Linked DNA regions of Homo sapiens: region 1 is linked to region 2. A link means that fine-mapping ties the variant in region 2 to the expression of a gene that starts in the linked region. Tissue or cell type: whole blood. Region 2 holds a variant in brackets; the other region holds the start of a gene. All regions are shown on one strand. Distances are between the middles of the regions. Region 1 holds the start of MAMDC4 (MAM domain containing 4). Region 2 overlaps TRAF2 (TNF receptor associated factor 2).

Region 1 (5,505 bases), 54 kb before region 2:
GGAAGGGGCTGTTCAGAGCTGGGATTTCAGACCCCTTCGGCTGGGAGTTCCTCCCGCGGCCTCCAAGGGCGGCCAGGGCACGTCCTGAGGCCGCCCTCCCATCCCAGCGGACATCTACGACAAAGTGTCGGGCGACATGCAGAAGCAAGGCTGCGACTGTGAGTGTCTGGGCGGCGGGCGCATCTCCCACCAGAGTCAGGACAAGAAGATTCACGTGTACGGCTATTCCATGGTGAGCCGCAGCCCCGTCCCGCCCTGCCGGAGGCCCCAGTACCAGCTTCGAGGCCCACCTGAGCCTGCTGCCCTGACCCGTGGCCCCAGCTGAGCACGCAGGCTTCCTGGGGTTCTCCCAGGGTCGGCGGCAGAGCCCTCCCTCCAGGGCCCATTGTGTTCCTGCATTCCCCCATGGAGCACACGCCAGACCTGAGGGGTGGGACGGACACCCCCAGACATGGCCGGCTGTCTCCTCTCCCTGCCTTGGGAGGCCTTGCTGGGCTCTAGCTGTCCTCCAGCACTTTGGGCCCTGGGCCCCCAGAGGCAGTCAGTACCTGGGTGGAGCTCAGAGTCCCCACCTGTGCTCTTCACAAAAACCACCAGCAGATGAGACCCACGTGCGTCCCTCTGGGCGCCTCAGGCCCCAGGATCCACCATCAAGGTTTGCTTGCCTGTGGAGGTCGCCTCTCCCCAGGGGAGCCCCCAAGGGCGGTCGGGATGGTGGGTTTGGCATCCCCAGGCACTGCCTATCCCTTTCCCACACTCGCTTCTGGTGTGGCTGGTGGCTGGATGCCCAGAGCCGGGTATCGGGTTGAAGGGTCCAGGTAGTGCCAGCAGGCGTCTTCTCTTCTCCAGGCCTATGGTCCTGCCCAGCACGCCATTTCAACTGAGAAAATCAAAGCCAAGTACCCCGACTACGAGGTCACCTGGGCTAACGACGGCTACTGAGCACTCCCAGCCCGGGGCCTGCTGCCTCCAGCAGCCACTTCAGAGCCCCCGCCTTTGCCTGCACTCCTCTTGCAGGGCTGGCCCTGCCTGCTCCTGCGGCAGCCTCTGGTGACGTGCTGTCCACCAGGCCTTGGAGACAGGCTAGCCTGGCCACAGAATTAAACGTGTTGCCACACCTGCCGGCTTCTGAACTCTGTCCTTGGCTTCCTGCACCCTGCGTCACCACCTCCGGGGGCCCCCAGACCCTAACTAAAGCAGGTGGGTGGGGGAACACAGGAGTGGCCCCAGGGAGTGGCGGTGCACACTCAGCCCTTTGGGGTCTGATAAAGGGGCCCGCTGATGGCCTGACTGCTCTTCCCACGGCCATCGTCCTCCAGGGCATCTTGGAGGAGGTCTGGCAAGCCCTTGCGAGAGGAGTCAGGGCCTGGTCCCTCGGGCTGGCCAAGACCTGGGGCGCCCACCAGTGCTCCCTCCTATGAGCCCATCCCAGGGCTCCCCAGTGTCCTGTCTGCCCTGAGGCTCCTTCCGTGACCTGCAGGCTCCTTCCATGACCAGCCCCATGGGGCCTACCAGTATCCAGGGTCAGGTCGCACAGCTGCATCTACCCCACAGGCTCACGTTGACTCTGGAGGCCCCTCCCAGGTCCCTCTTGCACCCGGCAGGGCTGTGGGCAGGACACGGGTTCAGGCCTTGCCCTGGGAAGCCCCATACACAGTGGGACTCCATGGGGTGGTGCAGGGGCACCCTGGGGGCCAGGGCTGGTTGTACACAGGGCACCCCCACCTTTGTCAGCTCACTGGTCCTCCGGCCAGCCTCTCCAGACGGGCACTGTCATAACCACATTTTACAGACCGGGACACTGAGGCTCAGTGACACAAGCTCCGAGGTCACACCATGGGAAATCACAAACAGGGCCTGGCCCCAAATGCCACACTCCTTCCCCAGCCCCAAAGACCCTGCCCCAAGCATGAGTCTGCTCCATGAGAAACCGAAGTTTCTGGGCTCCTAGGGACCCTGTATCTGGCACCGGACAGCACCTGGCTGCTCAGGACGAATGAATGACGGCGTGATCCTCCACAGCCTGACTTAAAGGCAGGTTCCCCACGGCTGAGAACGCAGGGACCAGCTCTGGTGCACGTGCTGGACTCCTGCAGCTGCTGGACTGGTTGAGTCCTGACCTTGGCCAGCACCACGCTATTGCCAGAGGCACAGTGAGAGGCCACGGCGGCCTCTGCCCGCCCCACACTGCCGAGCAGAGTCCTGGTGGGGTGCCTGGGTCCCTCCCCATTCCAGTGGGAGCCTCCCCTTCACCAGGCAGGGCAGGGCAGGGTGGAAGAGCCTGACCTTGTGTCTGAGGGAGCCGGGCAGGTGGGAGCTGACCCTGGGTCAGAGGCCCCCTCCTGGGGCCACTTTCACGGCCCATGCTTGGCACCGTCAGCACTGGGTGGGGCCGGGCCGAGGGGCCCTCCACTTAACAGCAGAGTCAGCGTGCGGGGCCAGCGCAGGCTGATAACCGCACGGAACTTCCCAGGCACCCTGTGTGGCCGCACTGCTCCCTCTGGCCCAACCATGCCTCTGTCCAGCCACCTGCTGCCCGCCTTGGTCCTGTTCCTGGGTAAGTAGTCTGGTCCCACTCCTGAGGCAGGACCAGGGGCCCTGGCTTCTGAGCCTACCATCTGTGTGGCAGTGACGGACACCAGGGCTGATGCCTGAGCCCCAAAGGGAAGGAGGGTTGCAAGGTACTACCTTGGCCGGCCTGCAAGGGGGGTGACCTGGAATCAGCCCATGGGGTCCTCGGGCCTGCCAAGCAAAGGAAGAGGCACGACTCCCCTCCCAGTCTGGGACAAGAGGGCTCAGGAGGTGCCCCCAGCTCTGCCAGCCTTCATCTGCCACCCTTGGACTGGGTGGAGCTTGTGGAGGCCCTGGGCCGCCCGTCGATGCCTCCCATTGGGGGTCGCCCTCCCAGTGCCCAGTTCCCTGCTGGGCACTCTGGGTTCCTGCTACCTTTCTTGGGGTGCCCCATGGCCGGGTCCCCCTCCCCAGCCTCTTCAGGGCTGGAAACAGGAACGTGCTGTGCTTGGTCCTGAGCCGGGTGGGAGTTCTCTGTGGGTCCCAGCCCCTCCCTGCTCCATCTCCTGGTCTGAGGGGCATCCCCGGACAAAAGATGTCCAGTGCTAAAACTGAATAGTCCTAGGCAGGCTGGGATGGCTGGTCACCCTGCCCCCAGGCCACCTGGCTGTCAACCTCCCAGCAGCAGGGTCCTCAGGCTGGGCCTGGGTCCCCAACCACTGCAGGAGCCCTGGCCAGGCCGTGTGCAACTTCGTGTGTGACTGCAGGGACTGCTCAGATGAGGCCCAGTGTGGTGAGCCAAGACCAGATGGGCGGGCAGGGCCAGTGCGAGCAGGTCTGGCACACACCTGACCACCCACTCTCCCAGGTTACCACGGGGCCTCGCCCACCCTGGGCGCCCCCTTCGCCTGTGACTTCGAGCAGGACCCCTGCGGCTGGCGGGACATTAGTACCTCAGGCTACAGCTGGCTCCGAGACAGGGCAGGGGCCGCACTGGAGGGTCCTGGGCCTCACTCAGACCACACACTGGGCACCGACTTGGGTGAGGCCAGGGCAAGTCTCTGTGCGCCCCTGTCCCAATACCCTCCTTGCTCCCTGCCCCGTCTCCTGACCTCTCACCTGCGCCAGGCTGGTACATGGCCGTTGGAACCCACCGAGGGAAAGAGGCATCCACCGCAGCCCTGCGCTCGCCAACCCTGCGAGAGGCAGCCTCCTCTTGCAAGCTGAGGCTCTGGTACCACGCGGCCTCTGGAGGTGCACCCTGGACCCCCAAGGCTCGTGGGGGGTGCCCAAGGGGAGGGCGGGTGGGCAGCTGGGGACAAGCAGGGCCGCAGCTGCCCTGGGACCCCTGACATTGCAGATGTGGCTGAACTGCGGGTGGAGCTGACCCATGGCGCAGAGACCCTGACCCTGTGGCAGAGCACAGGGCCCTGGGGCCCTGGCTGGCAGGAGTTGGCAGTGACCACAGGCCGCATCCGGGGTGACTTCCGAGTGAGCTGGGAGGGTCTGGACGAGTGGGGGCCTTGAGGAGGGGTCTGGGCCCTGACTTAGGTCCTAAGAGCCTGTTCTCTTCAGGTGACCTTCTCTGCCACCCGAAATGCCACCCACAGGGGCGCTGTGGCTCTAGATGACCTAGAGTTCTGGGACTGTGGTCTGCCCAGTAAGGCACCGCCTCTTCCTGTTCCACCCCCGGGAGGGCCCCCACCTGCCCACTCCCCTGCTCAGACCCTGTCTGCCCCCGAGTGCTCTCCCACTCCTGGGGCCTCGGTGAAGGGTTAACCCTGCCCCACCCAGCCCCCCAGGCCAACTGTCCCCCGGGACACCACCACTGCCAGAACAAGGTCTGCGTGGAGCCCCAGCAGCTGTGCGACGGGGAAGACAACTGCGGGGACCTGTCTGATGAGAACCCACTCACCTGTGGTGAGGCCGGAGTGGGGGCCCAGAGTGAGGCTGGGAGACTGGACGCCTCGGTGGGGGCCCTGGCACTCATCCAGGAGGGGGTGCCTTGGATCCTTGGATGGTCCTTCTTGGGGTGTGGTTGCCAGGGCCCCCCTGGAGCTGGGGCCATACGGCTTCAGGAAGCACTGCCTGGTGGCCCTGACACGCCCACCTCCTGCCCTAGGCCGCCACATAGCCACCGACTTTGAGACAGGCCTGGGCCCATGGAACCGCTCGGAAGGCTGGTCCCGGAACCACCGCGCTGGTGGTCCTGAGCGCCCCTCCTGGCCACGCCGTGACCACAGCCGGAACAGTGCACAGGGTGAGGCCCACAGAGGACCCGGCCCAGGCCCTGCCCACGCAGCCACAGCCCAGTGGCCCTGGCCCACTCCCGTCCTTTCCCGCAGGCTCCTTCCTGGTCTCCGTGGCCGAGCCTGGCACCCCTGCTATACTCTCCAGCCCCGAATTCCAAGCCTCAGGCACCTCCAACTGCTCGGTGAGATGGGTGGGGCTCACAGGGCCTCCCTGCTCTCCGTGCTGGCTGCCCCGGTGCAGGCCCCCAGCCAGCTCTTGGTTCCACAGCTGGTCTTCTATCAGTACCTGAGTGGGTCTGAGGCTGGCTGCCTCCAGCTGTTCCTGCAGACTCTGGGGCCCGGCGCCCCCCGGGCCCCCGTCCTGCTGCGGAGGCGCCGAGGGGAGCTGGGGACCGCCTGGGTCCGAGACCGTGTTGACATCCAGAGCGCCTACCCCTTCCAGGTAGGGAACAGCAAGAGGGTGGGGTCTGGGGAGCCGCACTGTGGGCAGGGGAGGGGAACCCACAAGGTACCCACTGCGGGTGGACAGGGACCAGACCCCAGGGGGAAATAGGCTGGGCACCCCCTGAGCCCCTCTGCCCTCAGATCCTCCTGGCCGGGCAGACAGGCCCGGGGGGCGTCGTGGGTCTGGACGACCTCATCCTGTCTGACCACTGCAGACCAGTCTCGGGTGAGCCTGCTGACTCTGCCCTACCCTGCCTTGCCCTGGAGAGGCACAGCACTCCCCATCCCTGCCTCCTGA
Region 2 (5,000 bases):
TTCTTTTCTGGCTTATTTTAAAGCAAATGAAGATGTCATATCATTTCACCTATGAGCATTTTATTACTATTATTTTTAGAAATAGAGTCTCGCTCTGTTGCCTAGGCTAGCGTGTAGTGGTGGGATCATAGCTCACTGCAGCCTCAAACTCCTGGGCTCAAGTGATCCTCCCACCTTGGTCTCCTAAAGTGCTGGGATTACAGGTGGGAACCCACTGTGCCCGGCCATTTTACTATGTTTTAAAGAACAGTCTTTTTTATTTTTATTTTTTTATTTATTTGAGATGGAGTCTCACTCTGTCGCCCAGGCTGGAGTGCAGTGGCACGATCCCGGCTCACTGCAAGCTCCACCTCCCACGTTCACGCCATTCTTCTGCCTCAGCCTCCCGAGTAGCTAGGACTACAGGCGCTCACCACCACTCTCGGCTAATTTTTTTTGTATTTTTAGTAGAGACGGGGTTTCACTGTGTTAGCCAGGATGGTCTCAATCTCCTGAGCTCGTGATCCACCCGCCTCGGCCTCCCAAAGTGCTGGGATTACAAGGCGTTAGCCACCGCGCCTGGCCTAAAGAACAGTCTTTTAATTAAATCTAAGAACATTGACTATTTGTGCTTTCGTTTTTAGGTTTCATAAGCCAGAATAGTTGCTGAGGCTCCTCTTTGATTCAGCTTGATGGTGGCTTGTTACACACTAGTGTGGCCGAGGGCTGGGTCCTGTCCCGTCAGTGGGTAGCAGAGTGCAAGGCGCTGTTGGGTTCAGGGAGTTGGTTCCTTTAGCAGGCTTAGCTTGGGCCAGTGCCGCTGGAGGTCTTGGAGGGCTGGGCCCATGTTCCCTGGGGCGCCTCTAAGGAGTAGTTGCTGTGCCTGTGTGAAGGTTTGGGAGGAACACTCCCTGGGGAGGTTGAATGGAAGCCAGCCCAAGTGCCTGTGCTGTCCAGAGCAGGGTCTCCCCTCTTGGGGGAAGTAGCATTAACCTTTCCTGAGTCACTTGGGGCTCCTGAGCTGTAGCCAGCTCTCTATGGAGCTGCTGACCCCCACTCCCCACCCCATGAAGGGCCCCGCAGCCAGGTCCTCTGCTGCCCTGGCCTCTCAGGAACCTTCCTCTCAGCACATTGTCCTCCTCTCTCCGGGTTGTGCCCATCGGTACAGAATATGCTCTAGTCTCTCCTGTCTCAAAACTTAGTGTTGTGCTCAGTGAGCTAAGCTAGGCACAAGAAGATAAAGACTGCGTGAATTCACTGACAGAGTCCCCGGAGTGGTCAAATTGAGAGCCAATAGATGGTGCTGGGGGCTGGAGCAGGGGAATGGGGAGTTAGGGTTTAACAGGGACAGGGTTTCAGGTTTCTACAATGGGAAAGCGTGATGGAGGTAGATGGTGGTGATGGTTACATAACATCAGTGAAATGTACTTAATACCACAGAACTGTGCACTTGAAAATGGTTAAGATGATACATTTTATGTTTATCATGATTGAAGAAACAGCAGATTTTCAACTTCCTGTTCCTTTGACTTCCATTCCCTTTCTCTGTTCCCAGTCATAGCAGACTTCTCCCAAAAGACGTGTTTAACTCTGGCCAGGCACAGGGGCTCATGCCTGTAATCCCAGTACTTTGGGAGGCTTAGGTGGGCAGATTGCTTGAGCTCAGGAGTTCAAGACCAGCCTGGGTAAGATGGCTCTACCGCCGGGCGCGGTGGCTCACACCTGTAATCCCAGCACTTTGGGAGGCCAAGGCAGGTGAATCACGAGGTCAGGAGATTGAGACCATCCTGGCTAACACGGTGAAACCCTGTCTGTACTAAAAATACAAAAAAATTAGCCGGGTGTGGTGGCGGGCGCCCGTAGTCCCAGCTACTCAGGAGGCTGAGGCAGAAGAATGGCGTGAACCCAGGAGGTGGAGGTTGCTGGTTGCAGTGAGCCGAGATCGCGCCACTGCACGACAGAGCAAGATTCCATCTCAAAACAAAAACAAAAAACCAAGATGGCTCTGCCAAAAATACAAAGAAATTTAGCTGGGTGTGGTGGTGCGTGCCTGTATTCCTATAGTCCCAGCTATGTGGGTGCTGATGTCGAGGCTGCAGTGACCTGTATTCTTACCCCTGCACTCCAGCCTAGGTAACTGTATCAGTCCATTTTCATACTACTATAAAGAAATACCCGAGACTTGGGTAGTTTATAAAGAAAAAGAGGTTGAATGGACTCATAGTTCCATGTGCCTGGGGAGGCCTCACAATCATGGAGGAAGGCAAAGGAGGAGAAAGGCACGTCTCACATGGCAGCAGGCAAGAGAGCATGTGCAGGGGAACTGCCCTTTATCAAACCATCAGATCCCATGAGACTTACTATCACGAGAGCAGCACGGGAAAAACCCACCCCATGATTCAATGACCTCCCACCAGGCCCCTCCCACAACACATGGGGATTATGGGAGTTGCAATTCAAGATGAGATTTGGGTGGGGACACAGCCAAACCATATCAGTGACAAAGTGAGACCCTGTCTCAAAAAACAAAACAAAACAAAAAGCCCTGTTTAGTTTTATTTCTGTACCTCACCAGCCCCTTATGGAGGCAGGTGGGACCTCCTGTGGCTTGGGCCAGAGGCCTGAGAGTCCTTCTTGACTTCTCTGTGTTCCTGTAAGCGGCACGTTCAGTCTGCCGGCAGGTCCACGTGGCTCCCCAGACACATCCTGAATCCGGCCCTCTCTCCCGTTACACTAGCACCTTTGTAGTGCCTGCCACCCCGTTCTTCCTCCTGTGACTGCTGCGGCTTCCCAACCTTAGAGTCTGTGAGAGGTGCAGCTGCCAGGCAGTCCTGGAAGGGTTCAGCCACATCCCGTCACCTTGCTGTCCTGACCCCTCACATTCGGGCAGAGCCCTCAAGACGGTCGGGGAAGCCCTGCCTGGGGCAGCAGTGGGCTGGAGAGGTGGCTGGGTTCTGCATCCTACATTCTTGATTCTTCCTGGCCTGGGTGTGGCGAGGAGCTGGCACCGCCTCCCTTCCCTCTGTGTCCTTTTCCCTTGCCACCCTGGCCATCTGTGGACGTCCACAGTCCTCTGCCTCGCCTGA[C/T]GCTTAGCCTGCGGCACCGGCTCCCGCTTCCCTAGTCTGCAGTCTGCATCTTGTGGCACCTTCCCCGGCCCTGCCTCCACTGCCTGCCTTCCCTGGTGTTCTGGCACTGGTGGTCACTACCAGGTTGTCAGCTCCAGGAGGGCAGGGCCTCTGCCCAGCTCCTGGGTGGCTCAGTGTGTGGGAACGTGTAGGTGCCTGAGTGACCTTCCTGTGTGTCACTGGCCCTCGCCTGTCTTCCTCGCAGCTTCGGCCCTTTCAGATGCGTGTGCTGTGCAGCTAGACCCAGCTCCTGGCACCTTGGCCTGGTGGGCTTGTGCCTCAGGCCTTTGCTGGCTTCCTGGTGCTGGAGGCAGAGGCCAGCTGCCCGCATGCTATCTCCCGTGCGTGTTCCCTACCTCTTCACACCTCCCACCTGCAATGAGGATGGGGCTGGGACTGGCAAGACTCAGCCTGGACCGCGTTGGGCTTGGTCATCAGATCGAGCGTGGCCTGCTTTCTCGGTTAGGAGCTGGTGTGTGTGGCAGGGACCCGCTGGCGCAGAGCAGGGACTGTGCACTTGGCTGTTTCAGGGGGCAGATCGGGGAGCCTGGTGGTGGCAAGGCATCCACACAGAGACCCCCATGGCAGAGCATCCCCTCAGCTCAGTGTGCGGTGAAGAGAGTGGAGACGAGGACACACTGATCTGATCTCCTCCTGCCCTCCCACCTGTGGGAGCCCTGAGAGCTATCTGCAGAGGGCGGCCCCCAGGACCAGCATGCGGACACCAAGCCAGCGCTACATCGCCTTGTGTCCCCGGGTGAAGCTGTGGCTGCCCAAATGTCCCACGCGAGTTCTACTGACGCTTCCTCCTTTCGTTGCTAGAGCTGCCACGAAGGCCGCTGCCCGCTCATGCTGACCGAATGTCCCGCGTGCAAAGGCCTGGTCCGCCTTGGTGAAAAGGAGCGCCACCTGGAGCACGAGTGCCCGGAGAGAAGCCTGAGCTGCCGGCATTGCCGGGCACCCTGCTGCGGAGCAGACGTGAAGGTGCGTGGGGTGGAGCAGCAGCCTGTGTGGCTGCAGCCATGCGGGGCTGAGCTGGGGAGCTGCGTGCTGGCCACTGCGGCTGCGTCGGCCCCTTTGCACTCGTTCCACCCCCTCGGCCCTTTCCCTGGAGACACGCGGGCGGATGTTTCTTGGCAGAACTGGGAATGGGTGTGAAGTTAATGCCGAGGCCTTTCAAAAGCATTTTTGTAAGCCGGGCACGGCGGCTCACGCCTGTAATCCCAGCGCTTTGGGAGGCTGAGGCGGGCGGATCACGAGGTCCGGAGTTGAAGACCAGCCTGGCCAACATGGTGAAACCCCGTCTCTACTAAAAATGCAAAAAGTTAGCCAGGAGTGGCCAGGTGCGGCGGTTCATGCCTGTAATCCCAGCACTTTGGGAGGCCGAGGCGGGCAGATCACGAGGTCAGGAGCTCGAGACCATCCTGGCTAACATGGTGAAACCCTGTCTCTACTAAAAATACAAAAACAAAATTAGCTGGGCATGGTGGCGGGCGCCTGCAGTCCCAGCTACTCAGGAGGCTAAGGCGGGAGAATGGCGTGAACCCAGGAGGCGGAGCTTGCAGTGAGCCGAGATTGCGCCACTGCACTCCAGCCCAGGCGACAGAGCGAGATTCCGTCTCGGAAAAAAAAAAAAAAAAAAAAGCCAGGCACGGTGGCGAGTGCCTGTAATTCCAGCTACTCGGGAGGCTGAGGCAGGAGAATTGCTTGAACCCAGGAGGCAGAGGTTGCAGCGAGCCAAGACTGCACCACTGCACACTAGCCTGGGCAACAGAGGAAGACTCTGTCTCAAAAAAAAAAAAAAGAAAAAAAATTTTTAAAAAAAGTTTGTTTTTAGGACAAAAAAGCATTTTTGTCTTAGAAAAGTCTAAATGCATCAGGTAGAGAGTGCGGTGG

Evidence for each region. PIP is the estimated chance that this variant, and not a neighbour inherited with it, causes the effect.
Region 1: it holds the start of MAMDC4, and the variant in region 2 is the best candidate, but not a certain one, in a credible set for the expression of MAMDC4 in whole blood (TOPMed, PIP 0.50).

Annotation. Positions count from the first base shown.
Region 1 is chr9:136,849,906-136,855,410 of GRCh38, forward strand. It overlaps MAMDC4 (MAM domain containing 4), which reads left to right and starts at 2,441. Exons shown (of 27, transcript NM_206920.3): 1 at 2,441-2,557; 2 at 3,197-3,304; 3 at 3,380-3,553; 4 at 3,640-3,765; 5 at 3,872-4,002; 6 at 4,087-4,171; 7 at 4,306-4,431; 8 at 4,634-4,771; 9 at 4,857-4,945; 10 at 5,032-5,205; 11 at 5,349-5,433. The coding sequence starts at 2,512. PHPT1 (phosphohistidine phosphatase 1) reads left to right here. Exons shown (of 3, transcript NM_014172.6): 2 at 108-232; 3 at 850-1,119. The coding sequence ends at 942.
Region 2 is chr9:136,904,144-136,909,143 of GRCh38, forward strand. It overlaps TRAF2 (TNF receptor associated factor 2), which reads left to right. Exons shown (of 11, transcript NM_021138.4): 5 at 3,927-4,088. Among named protein-coding and RNA genes, the nearest start is that of MIR4479, 20 kb to the left of the region's middle. The variant C/T (reference allele first, on the strand shown) is at 3,066.